7 separate regions of the Homo sapiens genome follow, and all the other regions are reported to be linked to region 5. The links are microRNA targets in miRTarBase. Many come from high-throughput screens and were not tested one by one. Region 5 holds a microRNA gene; each other region holds the end of a gene's coding sequence.
The links. Region 5 holds the annotated microRNA hsa-miR-215-5p (AUGACCUAUGAAUUGACAGAC, at 1,844-1,864, shown strand). A microRNA usually pairs through its seed, bases 2 to 8, with sites in the 3' UTR of a target mRNA and lowers its output. Matches are read on the target gene's strand: a 7mer-m8 pairs with bases 2 to 8, a 7mer-A1 pairs with bases 2 to 7 and ends in A, and an 8mer does both.

Region 1: the mRNA of APC is a reported target of hsa-miR-215-5p. The part of its 3' UTR that is shown has no 7-base or 8-base seed match.
Region 2: miRTarBase lists SOWAHC as a target of hsa-miR-215-5p. The part of its 3' UTR that is shown has no 7-base or 8-base seed match.
Region 3: the mRNA of ZNF776 is a reported target of hsa-miR-215-5p. Seed matches in the 3' UTR shown: 7mer-m8 at 1,189-1,195.
Region 4: miRTarBase lists PPP1CA as a target of hsa-miR-215-5p. Seed matches in the 3' UTR shown: 7mer-A1 at 873-879.
Region 6: miRTarBase lists MMP20 as a target of hsa-miR-215-5p. The part of its 3' UTR that is shown has no 7-base or 8-base seed match.
Region 7: the mRNA of TICRR is a reported target of hsa-miR-215-5p. The part of its 3' UTR that is shown has no 7-base or 8-base seed match.

The regions. Positions count from the first base shown.
Region 1 is chr5:112,843,511-112,847,646 of GRCh38, forward strand. APC (APC regulator of Wnt signaling pathway) reads left to right here. Exons shown (of 16, transcript NM_000038.6): 16 at 1-2,729. The coding sequence ends at 616. Among named protein-coding and RNA genes, the nearest start is that of SRP19, 16 kb to the right of the region's middle.
Region 2 is chr2:109,615,750-109,619,917 of GRCh38, reverse strand. It overlaps SOWAHC (sosondowah ankyrin repeat domain family member C), which reads right to left. Exons shown (of 1, transcript NM_023016.4): 1 at 928-4,168. The coding sequence ends at 3,851. It also overlaps a transcript of RANBP2 not described here. Among named protein-coding and RNA genes, the nearest start is that of SOWAHC, 3.5 kb to the right of the region's middle.
Region 3 is chr19:57,754,345-57,758,504 of GRCh38, reverse strand. It overlaps ZNF776 (zinc finger protein 776), which reads right to left. Exons shown (of 3, transcript NM_173632.4): 3 at 357-4,160. The coding sequence ends at 3,818. Among named protein-coding and RNA genes, the nearest start is that of ZNF776, 9.6 kb to the right of the region's middle.
Region 4 is chr11:67,394,906-67,399,073 of GRCh38, reverse strand. It overlaps PPP1CA (protein phosphatase 1 catalytic subunit alpha), which reads left to right. Exons shown (of 7, transcript NM_002708.4): 5 at 1-134; 6 at 218-352; 7 at 429-891. The coding sequence ends at 539. RAD9A (RAD9 checkpoint clamp component A) reads right to left here. Exons shown (of 11, transcript NM_004584.3): 6 at 3,249-3,358; 7 at 3,053-3,162; 8 at 2,899-2,963; 9 at 2,674-2,811; 10 at 1,688-1,895; 11 at 664-1,610. The coding sequence ends at 1,515. It also overlaps the pseudogene RNU6-1238P. Among named protein-coding and RNA genes, the nearest start is that of PPP1CA, 4.9 kb to the left of the region's middle. RefSeq lists enhancers at 405-985, 986-1,567.
Region 5 is chr1:220,115,612-220,119,779 of GRCh38, reverse strand. MIR215 (microRNA 215) reads left to right here and starts at 1,818; the gene lies at 1,818-1,927. All of the region lies in intron 12 of IARS2 (isoleucyl-tRNA synthetase 2, mitochondrial), which reads right to left. It overlaps MIR194-1 (microRNA 194-1), which reads left to right and starts at 1,539; the gene lies at 1,539-1,623. It overlaps LOC124904515 (a long non-coding RNA gene), which reads left to right and starts at 667. Exons shown (of 2, transcript XR_007066883.1): 1 at 667-795; 2 at 1,897-2,038.
Region 6 is chr11:102,573,920-102,578,087 of GRCh38, reverse strand. MMP20 (matrix metallopeptidase 20) reads left to right here. Exons shown (of 10, transcript NM_004771.4): 10 at 662-1,256. The coding sequence ends at 762. Among named protein-coding and RNA genes, the nearest start is that of MMP7, 45 kb to the right of the region's middle.
Region 7 is chr15:89,626,791-89,630,790 of GRCh38, forward strand. TICRR (TOPBP1 interacting checkpoint and replication regulator) reads left to right here. Exons shown (of 22, transcript NM_152259.4): 22 at 166-1,233. The coding sequence ends at 296. It overlaps KIF7 (kinesin family member 7), which reads right to left. Exons shown (of 19, transcript NM_198525.3): 16 at 3,497-3,703; 17 at 2,585-2,783; 18 at 2,186-2,332; 19 at 1,187-1,996. The coding sequence ends at 1,629. Among named protein-coding and RNA genes, the nearest start is that of KIF7, 27 kb to the right of the region's middle. RefSeq lists an enhancer at 1,974-3,173.

The DNA.
Region 1 (4,136 bases), not on the chromosome of region 5:
ATCAAAGACTCTAATTTATCAAATGGCACCTGCTGTTTCTAAAACAGAGGATGTTTGGGTGAGAATTGAGGACTGTCCCATTAACAATCCTAGATCTGGAAGATCTCCCACAGGTAATACTCCCCCGGTGATTGACAGTGTTTCAGAAAAGGCAAATCCAAACATTAAAGATTCAAAAGATAATCAGGCAAAACAAAATGTGGGTAATGGCAGTGTTCCCATGCGTACCGTGGGTTTGGAAAATCGCCTGAACTCCTTTATTCAGGTGGATGCCCCTGACCAAAAAGGAACTGAGATAAAACCAGGACAAAATAATCCTGTCCCTGTATCAGAGACTAATGAAAGTTCTATAGTGGAACGTACCCCATTCAGTTCTAGCAGCTCAAGCAAACACAGTTCACCTAGTGGGACTGTTGCTGCCAGAGTGACTCCTTTTAATTACAACCCAAGCCCTAGGAAAAGCAGCGCAGATAGCACTTCAGCTCGGCCATCTCAGATCCCAACTCCAGTGAATAACAACACAAAGAAGCGAGATTCCAAAACTGACAGCACAGAATCCAGTGGAACCCAAAGTCCTAAGCGCCATTCTGGGTCTTACCTTGTGACATCTGTTTAAAAGAGAGGAAGAATGAAACTAAGAAAATTCTATGTTAATTACAACTGCTATATAGACATTTTGTTTCAAATGAAACTTTAAAAGACTGAAAAATTTTGTAAATAGGTTTGATTCTTGTTAGAGGGTTTTTGTTCTGGAAGCCATATTTGATAGTATACTTTGTCTTCACTGGTCTTATTTTGGGAGGCACTCTTGATGGTTAGGAAAAAAATAGTAAAGCCAAGTATGTTTGTACAGTATGTTTTACATGTATTTAAAGTAGCATCCCATCCCAACTTCCTTTAATTATTGCTTGTCTTAAAATAATGAACACTACAGATAGAAAATATGATATATTGCTGTTATCAATCATTTCTAGATTATAAACTGACTAAACTTACATCAGGGAAAAATTGGTATTTATGCAAAAAAAAATGTTTTTGTCCTTGTGAGTCCATCTAACATCATAATTAATCATGTGGCTGTGAAATTCACAGTAATATGGTTCCCGATGAACAAGTTTACCCAGCCTGCTTTGCTTTACTGCATGAATGAAACTGATGGTTCAATTTCAGAAGTAATGATTAACAGTTATGTGGTCACATGATGTGCATAGAGATAGCTACAGTGTAATAATTTACACTATTTTGTGCTCCAAACAAAACAAAAATCTGTGTAACTGTAAAACATTGAATGAAACTATTTTACCTGAACTAGATTTTATCTGAAAGTAGGTAGAATTTTTGCTATGCTGTAATTTGTTGTATATTCTGGTATTTGAGGTGAGATGGCTGCTCTTTTATTAATGAGACATGAATTGTGTCTCAACAGAAACTAAATGAACATTTCAGAATAAATTATTGCTGTATGTAAACTGTTACTGAAATTGGTATTTGTTTGAAGGGTCTTGTTTCACATTTGTATTAATAATTGTTTAAAATGCCTCTTTTAAAAGCTTATATAAATTTTTTTCTTCAGCTTCTATGCATTAAGAGTAAAATTCCTCTTACTGTAATAAAAACAATTGAAGAAGACTGTTGCCACTTAACCATTCCATGCGTTGGCACTTATCTATTCCTGAAATTTCTTTTATGTGATTAGCTCATCTTGATTTTTAATATTTTTCCACTTAAACTTTTTTTTCTTACTCCACTGGAGCTCAGTAAAAGTAAATTCATGTAATAGCAATGCAAGCAGCCTAGCACAGACTAAGCATTGAGCATAATAGGCCCACATAATTTCCTCTTTCTTAATATTATAGAATTCTGTACTTGAAATTGATTCTTAGACATTGCAGTCTCTTCGAGGCTTTACAGTGTAAACTGTCTTGCCCCTTCATCTTCTTGTTGCAACTGGGTCTGACATGAACACTTTTTATCACCCTGTATGTTAGGGCAAGATCTCAGCAGTGAAGTATAATCAGCACTTTGCCATGCTCAGAAAATTCAAATCACATGGAACTTTAGAGGTAGATTTAATACGATTAAGATATTCAGAAGTATATTTTAGAATCCCTGCCTGTTAAGGAAACTTTATTTGTGGTAGGTACAGTTCTGGGGTACATGTTAAGTGTCCCCTTATACAGTGGAGGGAAGTCTTCCTTCCTGAAGGAAAATAAACTGACACTTATTAACTAAGATAATTTACTTAATATATCTTCCCTGATTTGTTTTAAAAGATCAGAGGGTGACTGATGATACATGCATACATATTTGTTGAATAAATGAAAATTTATTTTTAGTGATAAGATTCATACACTCTGTATTTGGGGAGGGAAAACCTTTTTAAGCATGGTGGGGCACTCAGATAGGAGTGAATACACCTACCTGGTGCCTTGAAAATCACATCAAGTAGTTAATTATCTACCCCTTACCTGTGTTTATAACTTCCAGGTAATGAGAATGATTTTTTTTAAAGCTAAAATGCCAGTAAATAAAAGTGCTATGACTTGAGCTAAGATATTTGACTCCAATGCCTGTACTGTGTCTACTGCACCACTTTGTAAACACTTCAATTTACTATCTTTGAAATGATTGACCTTTAAATTTTTGCCAAATGTTATCTGAAATTGTCTATGAATACCATCTACTTCTGTTGTTTTCCCAGGCTTCCATAAACAATGGAGATACATGCATATAGGTCATACTGGTTTCCTTTCATTTTTTGATTTTCTATTTCTAATTTTCTGAATTACTGCATGCCAGTTGTTGCAAACCACTTCAAGTACTTCTATGGAAAGAGATGGATGTTAGTCAATTAGATAAACTTGCCTTTTAATTCAAATAAGGAAGAAAATATAAATGCTGAAAATGAACATTCCACATGCCAGAAAAGTGGAATTTTTGTAGGCAACACTTGAGTGGGGGGAGACGGGCCAGTCTATACTACCCATTGAAGTAAAGACTGCTGGATGAGGCCCTCTGTTAGAGATAGTGGTTCTGAATTAGTAAAGGGGCAAATCTCAATTCTAATTATAGATGTTCACAGGGTGCTGCTATAATCGATAGCAGGCCAAATATTCCCAGTTTATGCTTGTTAACAAATGGCATACTAAGCCCAGCGTTGGGAATTAGTCAGGAGTTACGATGCCTGTTTAGAGAGGAGTGGGGGAGGGAGAGTTACCTAACGTAAGGCACTTCAAAGGAGTGCGTTGGGATCACCAGGAGTGCTTAACAAGACATAGCTGGGCCATACCCCCAGTTTGATTCAGGATGTTTGGAATGGGGCCTAAGAACTTGCATATCTAACAAGTTCAAAGGTGAGGCTAATGCTGCTGGTCTGGAGACCACACTTTTTGAGAATTACTGCCCTAAGATCACAGTGAAGCTCCTTGAGTGGTTGCCTTCAGCTCTAGCGATTCCTCCCAACAACTGGACCCTTAATCTGACAAAGTATAGCAACAGATAAAAGACTTCCCCTAGGCATAAAAGATTTCAATATTAAGCCATCCAATTTCATAATGCTCATCTCAACTCCTGACAGCAGACAAACTTAGCCAGACATGAACAAACAAGTAATTCTAAAGACAGTGATTATATTTGAAGGATCAGTTAATGTTCCCTTTGAGACTGTCATTATAAAAAGCAGTAACTTCAGCAAAGATCTAATTTGAATTTTCAATAAGATTAAAAGACTATGAAAAGGGAACTTTGAGATGAGAGAAGGTTGATTTCAGATGAAAATATCCAGTTTTTTAATATACAGTGGAAGTGATCAATAATTAGCAAATAAGATATTTGAGGACAACTTTACAGATTACCAGGGTAATGAAAAGGAAGTAATCAAAGATAAGCCCCATAAGGATCAAATAGCACTGTAAGTACAGTAAAATGTTTCTTGATTAAAATATGGATCATGTTGCCACAGGTTAATTACATGAAAGAATGAATCTCTTGCAGAGGATGGGAGCCAGTTGCACAATATCTGAATATATGTTATCCCAGGGTTTCTTGGAATCTAAGGAAAAAAGCAGAGCACCAGAAATGCAAAAAGTAAATTGCCCATAGTTAAAGGAACATCTGAGTAGTCAGATCATTAAAAT
Region 2 (4,168 bases), not on the chromosome of region 5:
TCTTCCAACCCTCTAATATTCAGTGATTTATGAAGACTTGGGTGATCATTGAAGGAATACTGGTTTACAGCAAATTCCAAGTATTTAATCCTGGAATTAATCATGTAAGAAACTCCAAATAATGCTATTTACTTAGCAAAATAAAAATAATTTTTACTAGGAAAATTTCAAAAATATCTTTAAGTGAACTGGTTAATAAATCCTTTTAAGACATGTACTTCTAAGGAAAGAAGTTATTCTAGAAAAACAAACTACTTATCTAGTCTTTCAGTGATCCTGAAAAATATTTTATGGGTTATCATAAAACAAGAATAACCCCAGCAGCCATCACAGTGGGATCTCCCGGATAGAGCAATAGTGGGCGATTACACCAAAGGAGTACCACATCCCTTTGCCATTCAACAGAGTTGAATTTTGCTAAAAATACAGATCACAGGAAGCCTTGATGAGGTAATTAACTCTCAATGCTTCACAGAGGCTGAAAAATGAAAAACGGTATTCCTACACCTGTCTTGAAGTCAGCCCTGGGTAGGGCAGGTTTATGGCAGATGGTGTGTGCAAAACCCATACAGCTTTTTTTTAGGTAGTGGTGGAGGTATTACCTTCTCTCCAAGTTGATTCCTCCATCACTGGTGCCAAACTACAGCAGTTTTGCTAAAAATGTGGCAATTCAATGTGCAGAAAAGATAACGTTGTGGGAAAGCCCTGACTCTTATAATCTTACTAACAGCTTTTTACTGTGTGACCCTGAACAACCATTAACCTCTATTTTCTTATCTGTAAGTCAACAATATATGGCCCATAATCTTAAGGGATAGGAAAAGGGTCAAATAAACTGAAACTTCAAAAAGCATTTTGTGAACTGTAAAACACAGTATATGTAAAAAGTCTAAAGGACGACAGAAACTTAGACAATTCAGAGAAAAATTCTACTGTGAACATTTTATTTTCACAAAACAAACTTTACAGATTTTACAATCTCCCAAATTTCACTTATTTAAAAATAGGAGAGACAAGGCAACCTAGACTCCAAGATTGCAGGCGTGAAAAAACTAGTACCAGATATTCAAGTTATATATGCAAACTGCATTTTATATACCATGAAAGTGAAATGTGACAAACACTCACTAGTTTCAAGTGTACCTTATAAGAAACACATGGACATACTTGGGTTTTTTAACCACATAGTCTCATATCAATAAACATCTAAGTATCTGACATGTATTTTTCCATTAAAGGTAGGCACAACTCTATGAATATCAAATTATATCAATCATTTGCTTTTTATAATCTTGACTGGAAACTGAAAAATAAGAGGAATGTAAAGTTAAGTAGCCGAAAATGCTACTTACTGCACAAAAGCACATCATGAAAAGGAATGCTAGAAGTAGTTCTCCTCAGGAATGGGTTTTTGAAAATTTAAAATATTATTTTATCAGAAAAGTTAAAGCCTTCAGTGGGAAAACCATGGTAAATGACATATTGACTCAATCTCTAAAGCCCTGGCAAATTATAGATTTTGTGCAATTAGTGACCAACATATACATTTAAGAGATAATACTGACTGTTGACCAGAACCTTCTGATGGTTCTGAAGCATCTGCTCTTTAGAGTTACTTCAGCTTTACATGTCTATGAAATTTAAGATTCCTCAATGGGATGTTATAGCTTATTCTGCACTAGATACAAGTAATATGTATAGATTTAGAACAAATGACTACTTTTCACCTTCCAGGAGCCTGTTTTTATTTATACAAAATTAGATTGGTTTTTCACCCACATGTATGCATAAGTGCTTCTCAAATTTACACCGTTCATATCTGAAATCCCACAATAAATGCAAATAAATGGATACTAGTTTATATATTTCATATTTTCATTCATCTTTTTTTTTTTTTTTTTTGAGACAGAGTCTCCGTTGCCCAGGCTGGAGTGCAGTGTCGTGATCTTGGCTCAACTGCAACCTCCACCTCTCAGGTTTAAGTGATTCTCATGCCTCAGCCTCCTAAGTAGCTGGGACTACAGGCACGCACCACCACGCTCGGCTAATTTTTGTATTTTTAGTAGAGACAGGTTTTCACCATGTTGGCCAGGCTGGTTTCAAACTCCTGGCCTCAAGTGATCCACCTGCCTCGGCCTCCCAAAGTGCTGGGATTACAGGCATGAGCCACCATGCCTGGCCTTTCATCCATCTTTAAACAAATTCAATGACCATCTAGAGACAGATGTGACCAAAGTGTTACAAATTTCTATGCATTTTCTATGAATTGCTCTGTGCAGTTCACACATGGGTTCATTCACCCCGCAGGCTGTGAACTTCCTTATCCTGTAGGCTGCAGGTACTTAGGTTTCAGCAACTACGCGACCCAAAAGACTAAAGGAGGACTTGTTTAAATTAGTCCCTCTCAAAAATTGTTTCCAATCTTATAACAAACAGATTTAATATGCTTGTGGGTTAAATTTTAAAGTAGTTATGAAGCCATTTACTCTAATATAAATGAATGAAATGTAATTAAGAACCATACTTAAACGAGTACTTAATTTTAATGAATGGTATTTTTCATTTATATACAAAGGAATAGCCAGCAGCATTTAAATATAGAAATAGTCCCATCTCTTCTCTATTCCCTTTTATAAAGTGCCATTTTAATTGGGTAGATTTACTACCCAGATTTTCAGTAACTACAGGATAGGTATCTAATTGTCAAGAAAAGCTTGGAAAATTAAGTTTAGCATTTTAAACATTTGTAAAACATTGCTACAAGTCATAGAGACTACCAATGTATTAAAATAAAAAGTGTACCTTACATAAGAATCATTAAGTTGGTTTAATAATTACTTCACAGAAACATGGGCTCATGAATACTTAGGCCAATTTGTGCTAATTATTTAAACCAGAAACAGTTTCTGTAGGTAATTCAGCTCTAAGCACCATTAAATAGGGTTATGCCAAATAGAACAATGGTTAAATAATCCTCAGAATAAACACCCCAGCAAATTCAAACTTTTAGAATAGTAACAAAAGTTAGTGAGAATCCGAAAGAGAGGCAACATTTTATTGAAAACTATCATAGGCTGCTAAGTGTTCTCTTTAAATAAAATTTTGTGTAGTTATTAATGTACCTTAACACTGGTGTACCTTAATAGTGGTGTTAGAGATAGGTGGAAACCATACTACAGAAGTGAATGTTGCCTGTTTCTTTTGTTCAGTGATTAAAACTGAAATTGCTTTTAAAAAAATAATTTAACTGCTACTTACAATACACATAAAATACCAAGAAGATTCCCATTTTATTCACATTATTCTCTAATTAGTATTTTTGCATTTCAACTTTGATCTGACCTTCAGTAGTACCTTAAAATGCAAATGCAATTAGTAAAAACGGGGCAGCCTGTCGTTTTCACACTTAGAAATACAATGTAGTTTCATTACAGTTTGCATTTTTTTGTTACTCTTGAAAGAGTAACCCCTTATAAAATCAGATACATAAAAACTGCATTATTCCTTACTTTGCAGGCATCCAGGAATGGTTAAAGCAAAGGAACTCTCATTCATTAATTCATTCATTCTGTTCCCCCAATTTAGATACATTTCTAGTCTCCAGAAACGGACTCCAGGGCAGGGAAGTGGAGGGCAGAGAAGAGGTACAGGTCAAGGTATGATGAATCTCTGAAAAAGACATCCACTTTTCCCAGAAGGCTAGCCTGAAGAGAACTCCGCCCCATCCATTCCGATCCCTCAAGTAAGAATGCATAATTTAGCTTGTCCTTCTGGTCTCACTTCCTTACAACACCTAGTATTCAATTTATTAAGACAAATAAACCTTTGCATTTTCTAAAAGAAGCAATTTTTACCCAAATACATTGGACTTTGGTCTCAATGTGAAGGGCGAGTGGCCTTTAACAGGTCGTTCCTCCCCCACTCCCTCCTCCCCCCTGCCCTCCAGCGGCTGCTCTGGGTCCCTGAAAGAGGGTGTGGTGTGGACGATCTGGGTTCTGAATCGGATTTTGTTGAGTCTGGGTTTTATACGTCCACTAGAGCTGCCCGAGGCTTTGCGCCCTGGATCCTTGGCTTTGCCTCCGACCCACCCCTCAGCCGAGTGGTGATGGTGGTGATGGTCCCCTCCATCTTCTAGGGCGTGTGAGAGTTTGTAGGTGATGAGATGCGA
Region 3 (4,160 bases), not on the chromosome of region 5:
TCAGCAGGTGATGGATCCTCCCAGGACTGGATCCTCCCTTTCAAAGAAGTGGGTTCTCTTCTAGCCCAGGGTATATCTAGAAATGTCATTCAGAGCTAGGGCCTAGAATAGGGGCCTCAGCCTGGTGCCCTATCCTACTGTAGCTGAGCTGGAACAAGTTCCAAGACAAAGTTTTCTTTATTCTTCCCTCTCCTCTCCTCAAGTGGAGGGAAGGAGTCTCTCTTGGAGCTGTAAGCTGTGCGGCCTGGAGTTGGGAGAGGGGTATACATTCATCTACCATGTGAGTTGGGCACTGCACACCAAGGCATTCAAACAAGAGAAATGAAACCTTATCTATATGAAGAATTGCATTCAAATGTGCTTAACAAGCAGTTTTATTCCTAACAGACAAAAATAAGAAGCAATAACATATCCATAAGCAGATGAATTCGTATACAGTGATTTCCATAGCATGTCATATTCTAAGATAAAAAGAATGAACTACTCATATATCATGATTGATGAATGTCAAAATATGCATCCCTGCTATGTGAAATAAAAATAATAATAAAGAAAAAAGAAGAACATCTAAATAAATAGGGCTCAGGAGAGTACTCAGGTATGAAAAGAGGAAACATGTTATATCAGTCATATAAAATTCCAGAAAATTGACATTAATCTACTGTTAAGCAAATATTGTAATTCAGTGATTGTCTGGAGCATGGAGAGGCCAGAGAGAAAGATAGTATTTATTTTTTAAGAGACAGGGTCTTACTATGGGACCCAGGCTAGTCTCAAACTTCTTACCTCAAGCAATACTCCCACCCTGGACTCCCAAAGTGTTGGGATAACAGGCATGAGTCACCATGCCCAGTCTTATTACAGCTTTAAAAATTTAATTTGAAAGAACTATCTGGATTTAACATTATTTTTGACAAATAGGTTATGTGATTTTACATTGACTCTCCTAACTCTCATCACGCCCTAAGGGGGGCAATTAGCCTGTGTGATACCAAATACTTATGAGCCAGGAAGATCATTTCCACCTGATTAAATTGGAATGCTGGCTGGTTGCAAAGGCCACATCACTGGACTAAGAGATTTCCTTTCTCCCTATCCTCTTCCTCCTACTAATTCAGGGATGGCTTTTTGGTATGCAGCCCAGATAGGCTACAGAAATCCACAAAACCTTTAGATTTAGTCTGACAATGACCTAAGCTACACTAGATTCATAATTATGGAGGTCCTGAAAATTTCTGTACCTGCTTGTCCATCACAGACATAGTGACTGAATCATTGTGGATGCCTTTTTAAAAAAAGTATATCCCAACTATTCTGTTGCAGTCTGCTTCACTACCTAGAAATGCTAATTCTACAAAAATTATTTTTGGGCTGGGCATGGTGGCTCACACCTGTAATCCTAGTGCTTTCAAGGGCGTATGCTAGAGGATTACTTGAGGCCAGGAGTTGAACATCAGTCAGGGTAAAATAGCAAAACCCTATCTCTATAAAAAATTCTTAAATTACCTGGGCTAATCTCAGGTACTCGGGAGGCTGAGGCAGGAGGATCACTTGAGCCCAGGAGTTTGAGGCCGCAGTGAGGTATGACCATGCCAGTGTATTCCAGCCTGAGTTTCAGAGTGACATCATTTCCCTAAAAAAATAAAAATTAAAGAATTATGATTTCTTTCTCCAGGCTTATAACGTAGGACACTATCCTACAGAATTCTGGACTTCAGGACACATGAATGCACTGTAGGACTTGAGAACAGATTTCCCTCACCAGTACTGAGCAGAATGCAATATCCATTATAAACAAGAGAATAATTTTGTGCTGTTCTCAGAAGCACCAAAGTGTGTCACTAAAACTGTCCCCTACTCAGGTTGATTTATGAAAACACATATTATTGCACTATTTCATCTAAAAATAAAGATCACAAAGCCCTGAAGTCTTTATTTGGAGGCCTTAGGCAGCCATCCAAACTAGGCCACAAATGCAGAGCTATATTCTGCCTTCATACTGTTCCCTAAGAGTCACACAGTTTAGTAACCCCAACAAACTTTCATGGTACCAGAATCCTTCATGGTACCAGAACCATGTTGTATCTAAGCCACACAATGCAGTGAGTATACAATTCACACAATACAGTCAATACAATTCCCAAGATTGAAGGAAGCTTAAATAAGGACTTCATCATAGCAGAAACCAGAACAATGAGAGGCAGCTTGTACTTGGGTTGGTGAGTTAAGAGGCTGGAAAATTCCATTTTAAGAATCATGACAATCATGAGATTCCTAGGAAAGACAGCCCATCTTGTCAAGTAATCAGAAAAATTCTCTAGGCCAAGCTGGTCCAACCCGCAGCTTGTGGGCCGCATGTATCTCAGGACAGCTTTGAATGCAGCCCAACACAAATTTGTAAACTTTCTTAAAACATTATGAGGGTTTTTGTGTGATTTTTTAAAAAAGTTCATCAGCTATCATTAGTGTTAATGTATTTCATATGCGGCACAAGACAATTCTTCTTCCAATGTGGACCAGGAAAGCCAAAAGATTGGACACTTCTGCTCTAGGCCAGAACTGAGTCAGGTCCATGGCCTAACTCTTCATAGAGAAATGAGAAAGGAACGAGTGCAGAGGCTACTCAAAAATACCACTGCTGAATGGGAGACAACTTGAACTTTTTTTCTGGAATATGATGGAGTGCATGAGTGATGCACTGTAGGTACCTGCCAAGTGGTAGAGATGAAATGGCTTTTGCCAGAGACCTAAGAATGAAATAAATCTGGCAAGGACATACGCAGGATAAGAAATGCAATACAGCTCCCATATACCTGGAATTTATGCAGCTACTGGACATATGACATTCAATATAGGTTGATGGTGTCCTCATAAGGGCTCTCTCCCACAGTTACACTGGACAAGAAGTAATATTCCCACACATCTATGTTATTTTTCTCCTGTCAACATTCTGGTATCCAGTGAAAGAAGAGTGAAGCCCTCGCAAATGCTCTGCACTCAAAAGGCACTTCCACAGCAGGAGCTTGTCTGTGCATAATATGTTAGACATTTAGATAAAGAATGTGCCATATTTGTCACACCATAAAGCCTTGATCCAGTGTGAACTCTGATTTTGAAGGAGCATAGAGGTTTGACTAATCAATTTTCCAAATTTACTTCACTGAGAAGGGCTTTCTCTAGTGTGAACTTGCAGGGCAGAGCTTCTAGTGAATGTCTTTCCATATTTGCTACACTGTTGAGGCCTTTCTCTAGCATGAACTCTCCTGTGTTTAATGAAACCAGAGTTTTCCCACAAAGGATTTTCTACTCGCTGCTCTCATAAGGCTTTGTCCAGTGTGAACTCTTACGAACATGGAGCGCAGAGCTGTACGGAAATGATTTCTCACATTTATTATGTGAGAAATTATTATGTGGCCTTTCTCCATTGTAAATTATCTGATGAATAGTAATGCAGCTCTTCTGGCTAAATAATTTTACAAATTCCTTACAGTCATATGGCCTTTCTCAACTGTGAACTCAGTAGTGTTCAGTGAGGTGGGACTTCTTGTTAGGTAATTTCCCAAATTCCCCATAACTATAGGGTCTTTCTCCAGTGTGACCCTTCTGGTATTTGGTGAGGCAAAACTTCTATGTACAGGATTTCATACATTCTCTACACTCAGAAAGCCTTTCCCCAGTGTGATCTTGCTATTGTTGAATGAGGCCAACCTTTTGGCTAGATGATTTTGCACATTCTCCATACTCATAAGTGCTTTCCAGTGTGATCTCACGAATGTTGAATGAGGGTGCTCTTTTTACCAACAGATCTGCCAAATTTTCAACATTCATGATGTCTTTCTCCCGTGTGAACTCGTTGATGTTTAATGAGGTTTCCCTTTTGACGAAAACACTTTCCACATTCTCCACACTCATGTGGCCTTTCTCCAGAGTGAATCTGCTGATGTCGAATGAGACTGCCCTTTTGATGAAAACATTTCCCACATTCTCCACACTCATGTGGCCTTTCTCCAGAGTGGATCTGCTGATGTTGAATGAGACTGCCCTTTTGATGAAAACATTTCCCACATTCTCTACACTCATATGGCCTTTCTCCAGTGTGAACTCTCTGGTGTTCAGTGAGGTGTGACTTGTACCTAAATGATTTCCTACATTCTTTACAC
Region 4 (4,168 bases), not on the chromosome of region 5:
TGTGGTCTGACCCTGACAAGGACGTGCAGGGCTGGGGCGAGAACGACCGTGGCGTCTCTTTTACCTTTGGAGCCGAGGTGGTGGCCAAGTTCCTCCACAAGCACGACTTGGACCTCATCTGCCGAGCACACCAGGTGGGCTGGTGGCTCCGGCCTGCGGCAGGGGAAGGGGAGGGCCGTGCCTGCGCTCGGGACTGACTGCTCCCATCCTCGCCCAGGTGGTAGAAGACGGCTACGAGTTCTTTGCCAAGCGGCAGCTGGTGACACTTTTCTCAGCTCCCAACTACTGTGGCGAGTTTGACAATGCTGGCGCCATGATGAGTGTGGACGAGACCCTCATGTGCTCTTTCCAGGTGAGTGTGGGGAAGAAAGGAGCCGCTAGGCCCTGTGGCTCAGCCCCATGAGCCTGACCAACACTGTCTCTTTTAGATCCTCAAGCCCGCCGACAAGAACAAGGGGAAGTACGGGCAGTTCAGTGGCCTGAACCCTGGAGGCCGACCCATCACCCCACCCCGCAATTCCGCCAAAGCCAAGAAATAGCCCCCGCACACCACCCTGTGCCCCAGATGATGGATTGATTGTACAGAAATCATGCTGCCATGCTGGGGGGGGGTCACCCCGACCCCTCAGGCCCACCTGTCACGGGGAACATGGAGCCTTGGTGTATTTTTCTTTTCTTTTTTTAATGAATCAATAGCAGCGTCCAGTCCCCCAGGGCTGCTTCCTGCCTGCACCTGCGGTGACTGTGAGCAGGATCCTGGGGCCGAGGCTGCAGCTCAGGGCAACGGCAGGCCAGGTCGTGGGTCTCCAGCCGTGCTTGGCCTCAGGGCTGGCAGCCGGATCCTGGGGCAACCCATCTGGTCTCTTGAATAAAGGTCAAAGCTGGATTCTCGCCATGGCCTCCGTCTCACATCTAAGACACTGCCTGGCAGCTCTTCTGCACAGAGCCGCTTGGGAGTCTCGGCACCGGGCCCCAGCCAGGGCAACCCTAGCCACACACTCGGGTCCAAGGCTCTTAGAATTCCAAGTCAGCGCCAAAGAGTATCAGGAAAGCAAGGAAAACTTGTCAGCTCCACGGGGGTCCCAGATGCATGCCCAGGACTTCAGGAAGGAACAGGTCATGATTGGCAGAGAAGCTGGATCACCAGGGGCCAGCAGCACCTACTATGACATTTTCCTTAGGAAGGTGAGCCTGAGGGAGACAGGTTTCCAGCCTTGGCCAGCTGGAGTATAGCCTGAGGCTCAATGAGAAATAAGAGGTAGGAACGTCAGTAGTTCAGGGCCAAGTCTGGAAAGTCCTGATTGGCTGGGGGTTGTGGGGAGATAACGGCCCAGGCCCGACCGCTGTGGGACAGCTTTACAGTGACAGCCAGCTGGGGCCTGCGAGAGGCAGTGAAACAGCTCAGCTCCAGCAAGCCCACCTTTCTGATCCCCAGGGCTGAGAGACCCAGTTCTGCCACTGGCTGGGGCTTCGTCTAGTCCAAGGCCTCTGGGTACAGGCTTCAGGTTCTTGGTTCAGCCTTCACCCTCACTGTCTTCCGCCAGCACAGGGCTGGGGCCCTGGGGGGAGCGTACAGGGGCCAGGATGGAGCCGAAGAACAGTGAGCGGAACTGGAAAGAGAACAAGTGAGTTCTGGAGGCTGCTCCCTTCCCTACCTCCCACCCCTGCCTCCACCTCCAGTCCCTACCTTCTTGGGTGGGGGAGTCCCAGGCACTGTACTGGGCTCAGCCTCATCTTCCTCCTCGGAGTGGGGACCGGGGCTCTTGGGGGGCTGGGGGCCAGGTGAAAGGGAAATGGAGGGCAGCACCCGCGAGCCCTCATTGCCTATAGTGGTTTCCATGGCGATCATGTAAGAGTCAATGTCGTCATTGGCAAAGTCGTCCGGGTGGGGTGTGCTGTAGGCAGAATCGGAGTATCAGGGAGGGGACTGGGGGAGCAGAGGCAGGGCCCCACCTTGGAGGGCTCGAAGGGAGCTCTGGGGCCCCCGACCACTGGAGATCTCTTGGTTTTATGACTTCCTGATTTGGCTGGAGAGGAGAGGATGCAGGGGTTAAGTGGTGACTTCCTGGAGGGGGTGGGCCAGGAATCTCTTTGATCAGAATTCAGGTAGGGGCCTGAGGGAGGCATCCCGGGGGCTACCTTAGCTCAGCTAGGAGGGAGGAGCAGCAAGTCTTATGAACTGGGCCACATGGAGCCCAAGCCCCCACCTTCCCAGGGGACAGGAGCTGGAAAGCACAGGAGCCCAGGGACAGGCTGGGCTGGGGGCCAGCCCCAACTTCCTGTGCTGAAAGTGCACTGGGCCATCCTCCCCAGCCCACCTGCCCTTCCAGCCACCTGCTTCCCCCAGCCCAGGCAGCTCCTGCCTCCCAGCAGCCCTTTCCCTCCTTGGCCTGGGAGGAGGCTCAGAGGGGCGGCCTCAGCCAGAGAAGGAAGCTGGCAGGGCCTTGGGGATGCTTCCCTGGGTGGGAGGGGTCTCTGAGTACAGCTAACCGAGAAGGCTGAGTCTGCAGGGCTGGCAGCTGTGAGCACTATAGGGTTAGGGGCTGGGGCCTGATAGAAAGAGAAGGGGCGGGAGAGAACACATTGCGGGGAGGTGCAGAAGCTAGGAGTTGCAGTCTCAGGCTGGAGTGCACAGACATGGAGAGAGGAGGAGTTGGGGGGAGGTGCCCTCACCTGTGAGCCTGGAGCTGAGGCACTGGCTGGTGACGCTCTGGGGAGCCCAGGTCCTGGGAGTGCGAGTCGGTGTCTGAGAGTGTGGCCAAGACAAAGTGGCCGTCCAGCAAAGAGTCCTTGATGGTGAAGATGGCGGGCCTGGGCAGGGGAGGGGGCCCAAGCTAGGTCATCCCATTCAGCTCCTGCCATCCCAGAGCCCTTCCCTGTCCCAAGGCTGGGAACTACCTGCCTGGAGCATCAAAATGAATGCTAAGATTCAAGTTTGCTGACTCTGCAAAGCTCAGGAGCCCCTGGGAGGAAAGAGGTAGCAGGTGAGGCCCCGGGCTGGGCTGAGCTGGGCAGGGAGGACAGGACGGCGAGCGCCTGGGAGGAACCTCACCCGGAATTCCTTGAGGCAGAAAGTGATGGCCACCCCTTCCTGGGCCTGCAGCTGCTGGAAATCCTCCTCTCCAAGGCACATCTCAGTCACCATGGCTTTGGCAGTGCTGTCTGTTGGGGAAGAACAGGAGTAACCTGGGCCCCGCCCCTCTCCCACCTGCCACTCTGCTGTCCCAGGCCACGTCCAGCCCCCTCACCTGCCTCCTCCTCGTGGTAGCTGCGCAGGATGACCCTGCGGCCACGGCCAATGCCCAGCGTCACTTCAGCCAGTGCAGGAGAGAAGGGCAGAACAGCCTCCCCCAGAACCCTGTGAACAGGGTGGAGCATTACCCGAAATGCCTGGCCCTGCCCAGGGCTTTGCTCTCGGAGGACCTGAGGTGGGGGTGACACATGCACACGCACGGATGTGCGCAGGCCTAGCGCACCGTGGATGAGGCCCAGAGAAGGTGGCAGGGAGGGGACTGGTTGCAGTGGTTGCTCAAACCTGGCAGGCGGCACCTGACCATGCAGACCAGGGAGAGGGCCCAGAGGCAGGACGTGGCACTCAGGCCACCCTACAAACCCGGCCTTCAGAAAGAGCCCTGAAATCCTTATCCTCTAAGGATACCCATTGACATACAGATGAAATCACATCTGGAAATTGTTTCAAGTCAAGTGGGGACGGGAGCTGCGTCTGCTTTTACATATATTTGAAATTATTCATGAGACAGAGTGCTTGCTTCGGCAGCACATACACTAAAACTGAAGCATGCAAAAGATGAGCAAGGCCCCTGCGCAAGGATTTAAAAAAAAACAGTGGCTCATGCCTGTAATCCCAGCACTTTGGGAGGCCGAAGCAGTGGATCACTTGAGTTCAGGAGTTCGAGACCAGCTTGGCCAACATGGTGAAACCTCGTCTCTACTAAACATATATAAATTAGCCGGGCGTGGTGGTGCATGCCTGTAATCCCAGCTACTCGGGAGGCTGAGGCAGGAGAATCGCTTGAACCCGGGAGGCAGAGATTGCAGTGAGCCAAGATTGCACCACTGCACTCCAGCCTGGGTGACAGAGCGAGACTCTATCTCAAAACAAAACGAGAGAAACAATTGCTCATTTTTAAAAAAAGAGACTGAGTGT
Region 5 (4,168 bases):
ACATATTCATTCTTCTATAACTAATTAAATTACATCTTCTTTTGTATATCATTATGTTCCTTTATAAACAACTGTATTGGACATCTTATATACATATCCTCACACAAGAGGTATTAGTCCTATTTCCTTTGGGTAAATACTTAGAAGTGGAATTTTTTTATAATGAAACCAAGATAATACTTAAAAGATTTCTTAAATAATTTTCTGTTTCCTAAAAAAATTTTTAAACAATTTTCTAACTATTTCCTTGTGATATTTAATATTCTTCAGAAAAAAATGCAGGAAAATTCCTAATTTGTCTGAAATTTAAGAATTCTACCTTCATTTCTTTAACATTGTATACTTAACACAAACTCATAGTTAACCTATAACCCAAAGATCAGTATAAACGACTGCTGATAAAAGTGGGTGAAACCACTTACCAGTATGTAATCTATATGCTTCCATCTTAATGCTTTACTTCATAAAGCAATAAATCCATCATAAAACCTTGTACTTTACTCAAAGGCCTTATCTCAACACATGCATTACGTGTCCCTTCTTAGGTTTCAATCAGTGAAAATCCACTAGGTAGCATGAGCAACTATGACATCAGCCAATCATTCTGAACTTCGATATCAACCGGAATGAGGCTTATTTAGCGTGTTATGGACATTAAGCAGCATTAAGATTACTAAAGCAACAAAGAAACGACTGCTGTCATCCCACTGTCTTCTGTGTTTTGCCTTTATAAGCAAAAATATTGAAGATTATTAAGACAACTTTTCTTCTGTAACTTACTGGAAGAAGAATGAGGTAAGAGGCTAAATGTTTCACATTTGTTTACTAAATTTAATTCTAGAACAATGTGAAATTTGGAAGGGGAAATTCTATTTTTAGTTTAATCCTAGATTTATGTTTTAAAGCTGACAGAAAACCATTTTGAAGAAATTTTTCTTTATTTAATGAACATAAATTTTTTGAACAAAAGGTTTATTATTGTTAACTGAGAAAAAATTTGAGGTAGCTAAAGTTAACACTCAAATTATATTGGAAATTCCTTGGCTATTTTTACTAAATTTCTCATAATTTCCAGAAGTTAGGGGCTAAGTTTCACTATGTTAACTATAGCATTAATAGCATGAAAGTGATTATAACTGTTTGAAATGATGAAAGAAATTTAACCAACTTCTTTTCCTTCCCAGGTAGCCAGTGTTTCTACATTTTATCTTTTTTATGCTAAAAATTATTTCTTCTGTTTTTATTGACTAGTAACAGATTTCAACCCAAATTCTAATGGCATTATCTCACAGATTCAAAAAATGACCAATGACAGTAAAGTCAGAAATGGAATTATTTCTTGATAAAATACAAATATGATCTAAAATGCAAATGACACTATTAATTCAAATCAAAATAAAACATCAGCGTTTCAAATCTACCAGTCCCTAAACTTATTTAGAACATGAATAAATCGAGACTTTCTTCTGTGAAACAAGTATACTTAGAGATATCGTACAGCTCCCATGATGAGCAAAAGGAATCTCCTTATATGTTTAATGGTGTTATCAAGTGTAACAGCAACTCCATGTGGACTGTGTACCAATTTCCAGTGGAGATGCTGTTACTTTTGATGGTTACCAACTTGCTACAATATAAAGGTATAATAAAGAAAGACAGAAAATTGTGGTCACTTGGACTCTCATTTGATTCCAGCAGAAAAAAAGATTTTCAGCCTGTTTTATAAAATTAACAAATGATTAAGAATTAATATCAATTTTCTTAAATTCAAGTTTTGTAACACCAAAAAGATCCAATAATGGAAGAGGATTAAAGTCATCATTCAGAAATGGTATACAGGAAAATGACCTATGAATTGACAGACAATATAGCTGAGTTTGTCTGTCATTTCTTTAGGCCAATATTCTGTATGACTGTGCTACTTCAATATCAGAAATCGACTAACACCACGCAACCAACGCAATGGCAGGTACACAGAAGATAATCTGTAACACTACCATGTAAATGTATTGAGTAAATAAAACATAAATATACCTAATGAAAACTTGTGTTTTTCTGACAAAGCTCATATTTATTTAACCTAACTTACTGACCAGTCAACCTATGTACCATTTAATTATCAGGATGTATCAATTAAACCAGTTTGCTATATTTACTAATACATACATATGATCCACCTCAGAGTCCAGAGGGCTATTCCACCAAGGAATCCCCACCCACCTCAATCACTTCAGTGAAATTCCCTAGACATCTTGCTCTCTAAATAGTGAAAAGAAGAGTAGCCGGGCACAGTGGCTCACGCCTGTAATCCCAGCACTTTGGGAGGCTGAGGCGGGCGGATCACTTGAGGTCGGGAGTTTGAGACCAGCCTGACCAACATGGAGAAACCCCGTCTCTACTAAAAAATATATATATATAAAATTAGCCGGGCGTGGTGGCACATGCCTCTAATCCCAACTACTCAGGAGGCTGAGGCAGGAGAATCACTTGAACCTGGGAGGCGGAGATTGCAGTGAGCTGAGATCGTGCCACTACACTCCAGCCTAGGAAACAAGAGTGAAACTCCATCTCAAAAAAAAAAAAAAAAAAAAAAAAGAAGAGGAGACAATGACATGGCTTATAAAACTTTCCAAAAAAAAAAAAAACTTTCCAGTGTGAAATTTTAAACAAATGTTTGTGGAAACTCGTCTCAGGTATAATCACTTTAATTCTTTTTCTTTTAAACTAAGTCTGAGGCTGGGCATGGTAGCTCATGCCTGTAATCTCAGCACTCTGGGAGGCAGAGGTGGATGGATCCTTTGTGGCCAGGAGTTCGAGACCAGCCTCGTCAACGTGGCAAGAGCCCATCTCTACTAAAAATACAAGAATTAGCCAAGTCAGTGGCGCGTGCCTGTAGTCCCAGCTACTCAGGAGGCTGAGGAGGGAGAATCACTTGAACCTGGGAGGTGGAGGTTGTAGTGAGCCAAGATCACATCACTGCACTCCAGCCTGGGTGACAGAGTGAGACTGTATCAAAAATAAAATAAAATAATCTGAACTGGACAGAATTTACATTAATTCTTAATGTAAGTATTAAGATATTAGTAGTTTACATCTGACCAAGCTCTGTAAGAACACCACAGCAACAATATTTAGATTATTCCTAAAGTCTTACCTCAGATCCAACTTATAATAATATTGAAATAGCTTTCCAATGACTTTCCAGTCTCTAGCCTCTACTTTCTTTTCCTAAAACATACTCTTACTCCTCAAGTCTACTTAAAAGTTTAAACTTCTTAATAGCATAATTTAGAAAAAATTCCATTCACCAAATTAAAAAAAATTGCTCAAAGAAAATGAAAATCTGGAATGTGTTCCTAAAAGGAAGAATTAACATTCCCCTCTCCACATCTGTGAAAAACAGCAACAACACTCAAAGCCTCCCTAATATTACTAGAAGATAAACTAGCTAGACTATTATCTCATTAAAAACAGGGGCCATGTCAGTCTTGTTCACTGTAGCAACTAGCAGTTCCTAGCACTGACACGTACTAAGTGCTTGACAATGTGTTCTGTTTTGTTTCGTTCTGAAGAGACAGTGTCTTGCTCTGTCATCCAGGCTGGAGTGCATTGGCATGATCATAGCTCACTATAACCTCAAACTCCTGGACTTGAGCGATCCTCTCGCCTTAGCCTCCCAAGTCGCTGGGACTACAGGCCCACACTACCACACCAGCTAATTTTTAAATTTTTCTGTAGAGATGGGGTCTCACTGTAATCTTGAACAGCTGGCTTCAAGCAATCCTGCCGCCTTGGCCTCCCAAAGTGCTGGGATTACAGGCATGAGCCACTGTGCCCACATAACAATGTTTCTTAAGTGAATACATGAATAGCTCATCATCTATGGAATACTGTGCTTTACACCAAGTAGTTTGCATTTATTATTTAGTATTCATAACAGTCTACCTGCAACCATTGCTTTTCCTATTTTATAGAGGAGCCAGAGGCTAAGTAAATTCCTCAGTCTCACACACAGTGAATGGCAAAGCCTGGGTTCAAATTCAGTTGCCATTCTCCAAAGCTCACAGATTTCCAAGCAACTTCTCTTTCGAAAAGCACAAAAGGGAGCTGTTCGGGATAAAAGAATTATTCTAAGACACAATTATGATAGTGGCTGTAAAACTTAACA
Region 6 (4,168 bases), not on the chromosome of region 5:
ACATAGCTAGGAAAGTTGAATAGAACTTTGTTGAATACATTTAATTAAATCTTCTGAAGTAGTCAGTTAGCACACTCTTCTTGAAAAAATAGCACAGGGCTGGACACTGTTCAGAAGTGCAAAGACCATTCCAGATGTGGCCACTGCTCTCACAGAATGGTTCACCCAACACAGATGAAATGACTGGAAAACAGACAATCTATAATTTAGTGTTGAGTCATGTGGTAGACTGCACAATAATTGCAAGAGCTGATCTGAGAATTAAAATATCAGAATCGGCAGCAGTCATTGGAAATTTTATAGTAGGACTTCAGATGGGTTTTGAAGATTGGCCGGAGGCTTAACTAGGGAAAGAAAAGGGGAGTGGCTTCCTGGAGGAGAGCAGCCTGAGCAGAAGCACAGTACATAACTGAGCATGGCACATTGGATGACCCCAACAAGAAGGCCTTACCCCGGCTGGAACAAGGAGAAAGCTCAGAAATGACTGAGAAGTTCAGGAGTCAGGTTCTAGGGCATGAAGACAGAAGACAAGCTAACTGCCACCTGACAAATTCACAATTCCTCTTTGGTGACACTTTAAGAAAGTGACAGTGACAAATTCTTCCATTTATATATGTGCTGGACATCTTCAGTAACCCAATTTCAACTTTGTCTCTTTTAGGCTACATTTACTTCTTTTCAGGACCAAAAACATACAAGTATGACACAGAGAAGGAAGATGTGGTTAGTGTGGTGAAATCTAGTTCCTGGATTGGTTGCTAAATAGAAAAGCCTAGTCTTCTCAAGCAATGAGGATGACTACAAGCAGCCTCTAACTGGATCTTAAGGACTAAAGCAGAATGTAGGAGAGGGATTCTTCCAAAGGCCTTCAAATCAAATTAGAATTCACTGAGAATAATAATACTTCCAATTTTTTTCATAGTTGTATAATCAGAATTTCAATCCACATTAGAAAAGTTTTTATATGGGCAACTTTATGCGAAATCCAAATCAACACAATGCACTCTGCAGTTAGACACCATTATTTTTTCTTACCTAATATACTGAAGCAGATTGATCCGTTTGATTTTTATTTCCAGGAGGAAGACTAGTGGTGGATTCCATGACATATATTGTAATTCTTTTCATAGGAAATGTCATTACAGTATGAATTATAATTATTTACAAGCAATGGCTTTTGTGGCCATCATTTGGCCATCATTTGTTATAATAAATATAAATTTCCCAATTTTTACTTAAAAGACATCACAACAAAATACTGCATAAGAGTGGTTTCTTGTGTGTTTAACTTTGTGTCTACTCACTGGTATCTGATGTAGGCTTAGGTGGATAAACCTATTCAAACAAATTTTCATAGTAGGCAAGAGATGGGCACTTTGCAACAGAAAAATTTTTTAACAATAGCTAATAAAATGTTTTAATAGAACAGTTCCTCATTTCTTTTTTCTGTTAATATTTACTAGCTTCTATAATACTTTAATTGGCTACCCACACATCCTGTGTACCTATAGAAAAATTAAACCGTAAGATAACATCATAAGTACACAGACCCGGAAAGAAATAACAGTAACTCATTCTACTTCCTGCTTCCTGAAAACAGCCTCAGTGAAACTATCTTTTACCCAGCTAAGTGAGTGTCTTTTGAATAGTCTTCCATTCAGGGGAGTTCATCTTTTTGTTTTAGTTTTTCTTACGTCAAGCTAAACCTTTTTCCCCTACCTAGTCATCAGAATAGATAAAACTATGGCTCTGTCATTCTTATAATTTTGCTTTAATCTTACTCTCTAGAATGTAAAGATTCTAAAATATTTTAGTGATTCTAAAATTGAATGATAAGATACTTGTAATACTTCATAGACCTCCTGATACATCTACAGTGTTTAACAGATGCTACTATTGTTACCATCATTTATTAAATTTGTTTCATATAGTCACTTAAAAGACCTAATATTAAGAAAGGATGGGGTAGTTACTCAAGATTATTCTACACTTTCCATTTGGTTTCTGTTACTGAAAGTGGCCACTTATAGTCCACCAGATGTTGAATATTTGTTGAAGACAAGGTCTGGCATCCTTGCCTTCTAATGTCAAGGTGCTTCTATAGAGGAGAAAAGTCACTTTTGCAAAAACTGCTAAGAAGGACTTCTTACTATCAATAAGCAAGGAGAAAAACAGGCTGGCAATTTCTTAAAATATTTAACGTAGACTTACCCTATGACACAGCAATTTCACTCCTAAGTATATACCTATGAGAAATTAAAACATGTCTACACAAAAAACTTGCACATAAATGTTCATAGCATCGTTATTTATAATAGCCAAAGAGTGGAAAAATGTCCATTGAGTAATGAATGAATACGTAAAATGTGGCAAATTCAGACAACAGAATGTTATTCGACAATAAGCAGAAATGAAGTCCTAACACATGCTGTAACATGGATGAAGCTTGAAAACATCATGCTAAATGAAAGAAGCCAGACAGAAAAGGTCACATATTGTATGATTCTATTTATATGAAATGTTCACAATAAAAAAATCTATGGAGACATAAAGCGGACCAGTGCTTGTCAGTAGTTGGGGGAGGGGGTTATAAGGAGTGACTACTAATGGGTATGGGGTTCTTTTTTTTGGGATAATGAAAATGTTCTAAAACTGATGATGGTGATGGTTGCACAACTCTGTGAATATATTAAAAGCCATTAAATTGTACACTTTACATGAGTGAATTATATGTTATGTTAACTATATCTTGATAAAGCTGTTACATTAAAAAAAAGAAGGAGATCAAAGTAGTGTGATGATCCATGGAGGTCATGCATTCTGGCAACTGTGTCAGGGACCACATGACAATGAAGCACCAGCCTGAGGACATCCAGTGCTGCACGCAACCAGCCAGATGTCCTCCTCATGTCCAGCACTAGCCCAGAATCGTGCATACAGAAGACACTTCACTAGTCAATGAATTCACTGAAAGCAATAAAGCATATGCTCTCAGGTCTGACTGATGGATTCAAACTCCAGATCTTCTATTTTCAACTGTGTGATGTTGACCAAATTCCCTCATCCTCATTCTCTGTCTCAGTGTCTTCCTTTATAAAATTGGAATAATGGCAGTTTTTATCTCCTAAGGATATTTAGAGCCTTAAATATATGAGTCAAAATATGCAAAGTAGTCCCTGGCACTCTACAGGGGCTCTATAATTGTTGTTTTTGAAGCCATTAGAGTTCATTTTGTTTGGTGATATTTTGGAGAATTTGTATATGTCCCTTGAGATAGCTAAACATCTGATGAGCTATAATATCACAAGAATTGATAATCAATGACCTGAAATTTTTCTCTTCCAAATGTCAAATTAAATCAAATAATTAAAAATACTATGTTTATCCCCCATCTCCAAAAAATAATTCTTATAAATCATTATTTTTTGTTGAGTTAAAGAATTCTTGGCTTTTAGGCCAGGCATAGGGGCTTACACCTGTAGTCCTAACACTTTGGGAGGCCAAGGTGGATGGATCACTTGAGCTCAGGAGTTTGAGACCAGCCTGGGAAAGATGGTGAGACCCTGTCTCTACTAAAAATACAAAAAATTAGCTAGGCATGGTGGCGCATGCCTGTGGTCCCAGCTACTTGGAAGGCTGAGGTGGGAGGACCACTTGAGCCCAGGGGTCAGAGGTTGCAGTGAGCTGAGATTGTGCCACTGCACCAGCCTGGGTGACAGAGCAAGACCCTGTCTTAAGAAGAAAGCTCTTTGCTCTCAGATATAAAATTAGTATGTATTTTGGAAAAATACAGTCTCTCTAAAGCACAAGAAGGTGTGATTGTGTCATAACACAGAGCACTTATCCTCATATGATACAAGAACGTTGTGCAGAAATAATTTATAACATAAACTACTCATTTGACTTCAGAGTAACTGAGTGCAAACATGACTTATTAAATAACAGTTTTGGACAAAGTGTGGTTGAAGTACTCCCTTGAGGATCACGAGGTAGCAAAACAGAGTTCACTTCCTGATGAATTCTATGCATTATCCTATTAATCTCAGTGATGACTCTTTGTGGGCTGAACCTTTGAAAGCACTACACAGGCTACTAAGGATGAATGGATTCACCTCCTTGGGGAGCTTTCCTAACAGCTCCATATTAAATTTTCTCTGGTATAAACCAA
Region 7 (4,000 bases), not on the chromosome of region 5:
CTTCTAAAAAGTGTAGGTACCATTTCTGTAGGATAAGCGAACCTCCAAGCAGTGCTGATTTTCTTAAAGTCTGTTTTTGTGTGTAACCCTCTGCAATTTAAGCCAATTTTTTTCAGTTCGGTCCTCTGTGACTCCTGCATGCTAAGCCTTTCTACCTTCTTCTAGATGAGGATGTGGATGTTCTTCCCTCCACTGTAGAAGACTCTCCTTTCAGTCGCGCTTTCTCCAGGAGGCGCCCCATCAGCAGAACTTATACACGGAAGAAGCTCATGGGAACCTGGCTGGAGGACTTATAGCCACAAACATTACTGAGCCCAAAAGATCAAGGAGTCAGCCAGGACCCTGTGGACATAAAGAAGTTGGATGCCTGGTCCCAAGCCTCTTTTGCCATGGTCAGTGTTCAGATTGCCATTAGAATGCCTTAGGGTTTTCTAATTCCCCTTATGGATCCAATCCATCTCCTGGCCCTGCCCCTTGTTGGGGAAGTTGCAGGAGGAGAGGTGGATGGCAATGTGATTGGTGCTATAACTCAGGCAGCCTGGGAGTCAGGAACCCAGACAAGGAATCCCATTCCAGCCTCACCCCAACCATGACCTTGGCAAGTCAGGGGGCCACTCTGCCTCATTTATGCAAATGGAGAAAGGCGCCCTCCCTGGGGTCCCTTGAGCTGCTGTAAGGCTGGGCTGCTGCGACACAGGCAGCGCTTTGTAAACTGTGAAGCCATATACGTGAAACTGAAGAGTGCATTGGGCAGTGGAAGCTATTTTTTGCCTTCCCTGTGTAACAGTAAAATCATCTCTAGTGACTGAGCACTCAGTACATTTTTGTTTAATGTTGGGCCTGAGGTTAACTGTGACCATGGTCCAGCTTGAGTGGCTTCTGGAGCAGCCACATTTTCAAGGACTGTCCAAGAGCCAGCCAGTTCAGGGCTCAGGCCTCACCCATTGCCCACTCCTGGGGAGACCATCACCTGGCTCATCGTTTCCACCAAGAGTGCCCCACAGGAGTGCCCCACAGACCCGCTGGACCAGCCTGCTGCGGGTCCTGGCCAGGGGTCTGGCTAACGGTGAGGGCTGACTCTGAACTGTCTCTCAGTCTCCAGAAAGTGTTCAAGCCTGTTGTGTTCCCAAATCTGATTCCTCCTATTGTCTTGTAAATCAAACTCTAAGTGAAAACTTCCCATTTGTCCCTTCAAAGATTTTTTTTTATTAAATGGTTTTTTAAGATCCTAAAGTCTCCCAGTTTCCCCTATATACATAAGACCATTTAAACCACAACCTGGTTACCACCGACCCTTTCGTGATGATTCTTGGCCAAACCCCTGAACTACAAGCACATCCATTTACGCCTGAAACCAGAATTGTCCTGAGATTCGAGCAAGACACAAGGCGGCAATTGGGTACCACAGCTTCATGGAAGTAAGTGGTGGGAATTTGCATATTATTTTGTTAAATGAGGGTCCAGTTCTTTTGGGCCATGGCCCAAATTTGTTGATCCCAGTGAGGGTACAGATGAGGGCCTGGATTTAGGGTGTGCGGTAAGGACTGCCCTTCACAGAAGCAAAACAGGCAGCTGCCCCTTTCAGCAGGCTCGGAGTCTCCCTCCAAGGCAGGGTCTGCCCCGAGGGCTTACAGGGGGTTTTTCCGGACATCAATCATCCCCGGGCTGGCTCGTCGCAGTTCCCGCCGGGGCTTGGACAAAGGCCCAAAGTTCCAGGGCAGGCCTGCCTCACCCACAGGAAGCACCCGCCCCACCAGGGGCTCAGCCGCCTCCCGCTGCCTCAGTTCCTCGGGGGACCCCTGCTCCTCACCACACAGGCTCGAGCGTTTCCAGGTCAAGGGTAACGGAGCGTGGACCAAGTCCCGCGTCTCCTCCCGGGTGCGGGGGGCCCCCTCAGTGAGGGGGGACAGCCAGAGAAGCTCGGGTGCCAGGTGGAGCTCATCTTCATTTCCAGGAGCCTGTCTGCCCTCCGAGCACAGGCTCCTCTTCTCCCCACCTGTCATGGAGAGTAACGTGTCCTCATCAGAAACAGGTGGCAACACCTTCCCGAAGCCCTAGCTCCCCAGTGCCCCAGCACAATAAGCAACCTGTGAATTGAGCCAATAAAGGCTCGAGGGAGAGTGGTCTCTAAGCTTTCCCCAAAGAAAGGGAACAGGTCTGACTTCAGAGCGCGACGAGGAGTTACCCCTGCTGTGGCCTACAGCGTTCACACCGCCGAGCTTCTGTTTCAGTTCCTGGTTTATCCACATGTAACGGCCCAGTTCCTTCTCCAGAGCTTGAATCCGGGCCTCATACTGCCTCCTGCTGTCTGCTAACCCTTCACCGAGGTGGTCTAGAGTGGAAAGGTCGAGGAGAGGGTGGTGAGGGCTGCAGGCGGGGCAGGCGGCCAGGGCTGTGGGGGTGGGGGCTGTGGGCTGGGTGGGGGCCGGGGTTGTGAGCGGTGGGCCGGGCCACCAGGGCTGTAGGTGCAGGGGCTGTGAGTGGCAGGGGCGGTGGGGGGAGGGAGGGGGGTGCAGGGCGGGGAAGATGGGGGTGGGGGGGATGGAGGGGGCCGGGGTTGTGAGCCATGGGCCGGGCTGCTCACCTCGACTCTGCTGCAGGAGCAGCTGCATGTTCTGCTCGTGCTCCTTCTGCTGCAGGGTCAGCTGGCGGTCCATCTCCAGGCGCTGCCGCTCCAGGGCCACCTCCAGCCAGTACACCAGCCTCTGCTGCTCCTCCAGCTGCATCTCCAGTTCCGAGAAGGCAATCTGCTGCTGGTGCTGCTCCTCTCGGAGCGTCACCACCTGTCCCAAGACCCAGCCAGGCTCAGCCCTCATCATGACCCCTCTTCATCCAGCTAATCCTCAATCACAGACACAGTATTGGCACACTTGCCACCACGGCACTAAGAAATCACCAGGGTCTTCCCTGCTGAGCCAAGACTCAGCCTCAGACACCTCAGCAGTGCTCTAGTTATCTTCCAACGATCAGAGCTGGCTCTCACCTTATCTGCTATCTCTGCCACAAACCCTTTCCTAGCCACACACTATGGAGCTGGGCAGAGCGTCAAGTTGTGGGATTTCATCTAGACCAACCTCAGCACTATGGACATCTGGGACCAGATAATTCTTGGTTGTGGGGGCCTGTCCTGTGTGTTATAGGATGTTTAGTAACATCCCTGGCCTCCACCCCCACCACTGTGACAACCAAAAGTATCTCCAGCCATGGCCAAATGTCACAAAAGGGCAAAAACTTCCCCTACTGAGAGCTACTATTGTGGCCATGGACCACCCTGAGGTTAGCCAATCAGAGCAGAAGTGGGGGGCGGGTAGGAAACTGGGTCTTAGTTTCACAAGTAAAATAGGCTTTAAGGTCAGGCGGCCCTGCAGATGAGTTGGTCCTGATTCTGTCCCCCAGTCTGGGAGGAAACGGGATATCCGCTGGAGCAGCTGCCATGAGACACCTCCCCACACGTGCCGCTGAGGAGGAGCTGGGGGGCCATGGGCTGCTGGCCCACCTTGTCAAAATACTTGCAGAGGAGGGCTCTGGTCTCTGAGGATGAGAGGTAGCTGAGCTTGGCCATGAGGTTCATCTCGCACTGGGACAGCAACGAGGCTGAGGCCCGAAGCACCCGCTGGCGGCATGTGATGGCCTCATTCTTATACTCAATGGCAGCATCCAGGGCCTCGATGGCCTCATCCAACTGGAACAGCGTCCGCTCCTCCTGCAGAGACGGGCACGCGTGGAGGAACAGCACCCACTGCCTGAATGCTGAAGTCCTGGGCAGACATGCAACAGCCAACACGTAGCCACAACTGGGCCTTAAGGGTCCCCTCGTCCCAAGGGCCAAGTCAGCCCATCGAGAGAGGTGCCCCCTGCTCACTGTCACAGCCCCAACCCCAGGGTGAGCTGGGGGCACTGCTCAGAGGTGGCCTGCTCAACTGCAAGCCTCTGTGAATGATCTACATTCAGGAAGTTCAGAGCACCCTAACCAAACAAAAGGCATGGTTGGGACAGCCAC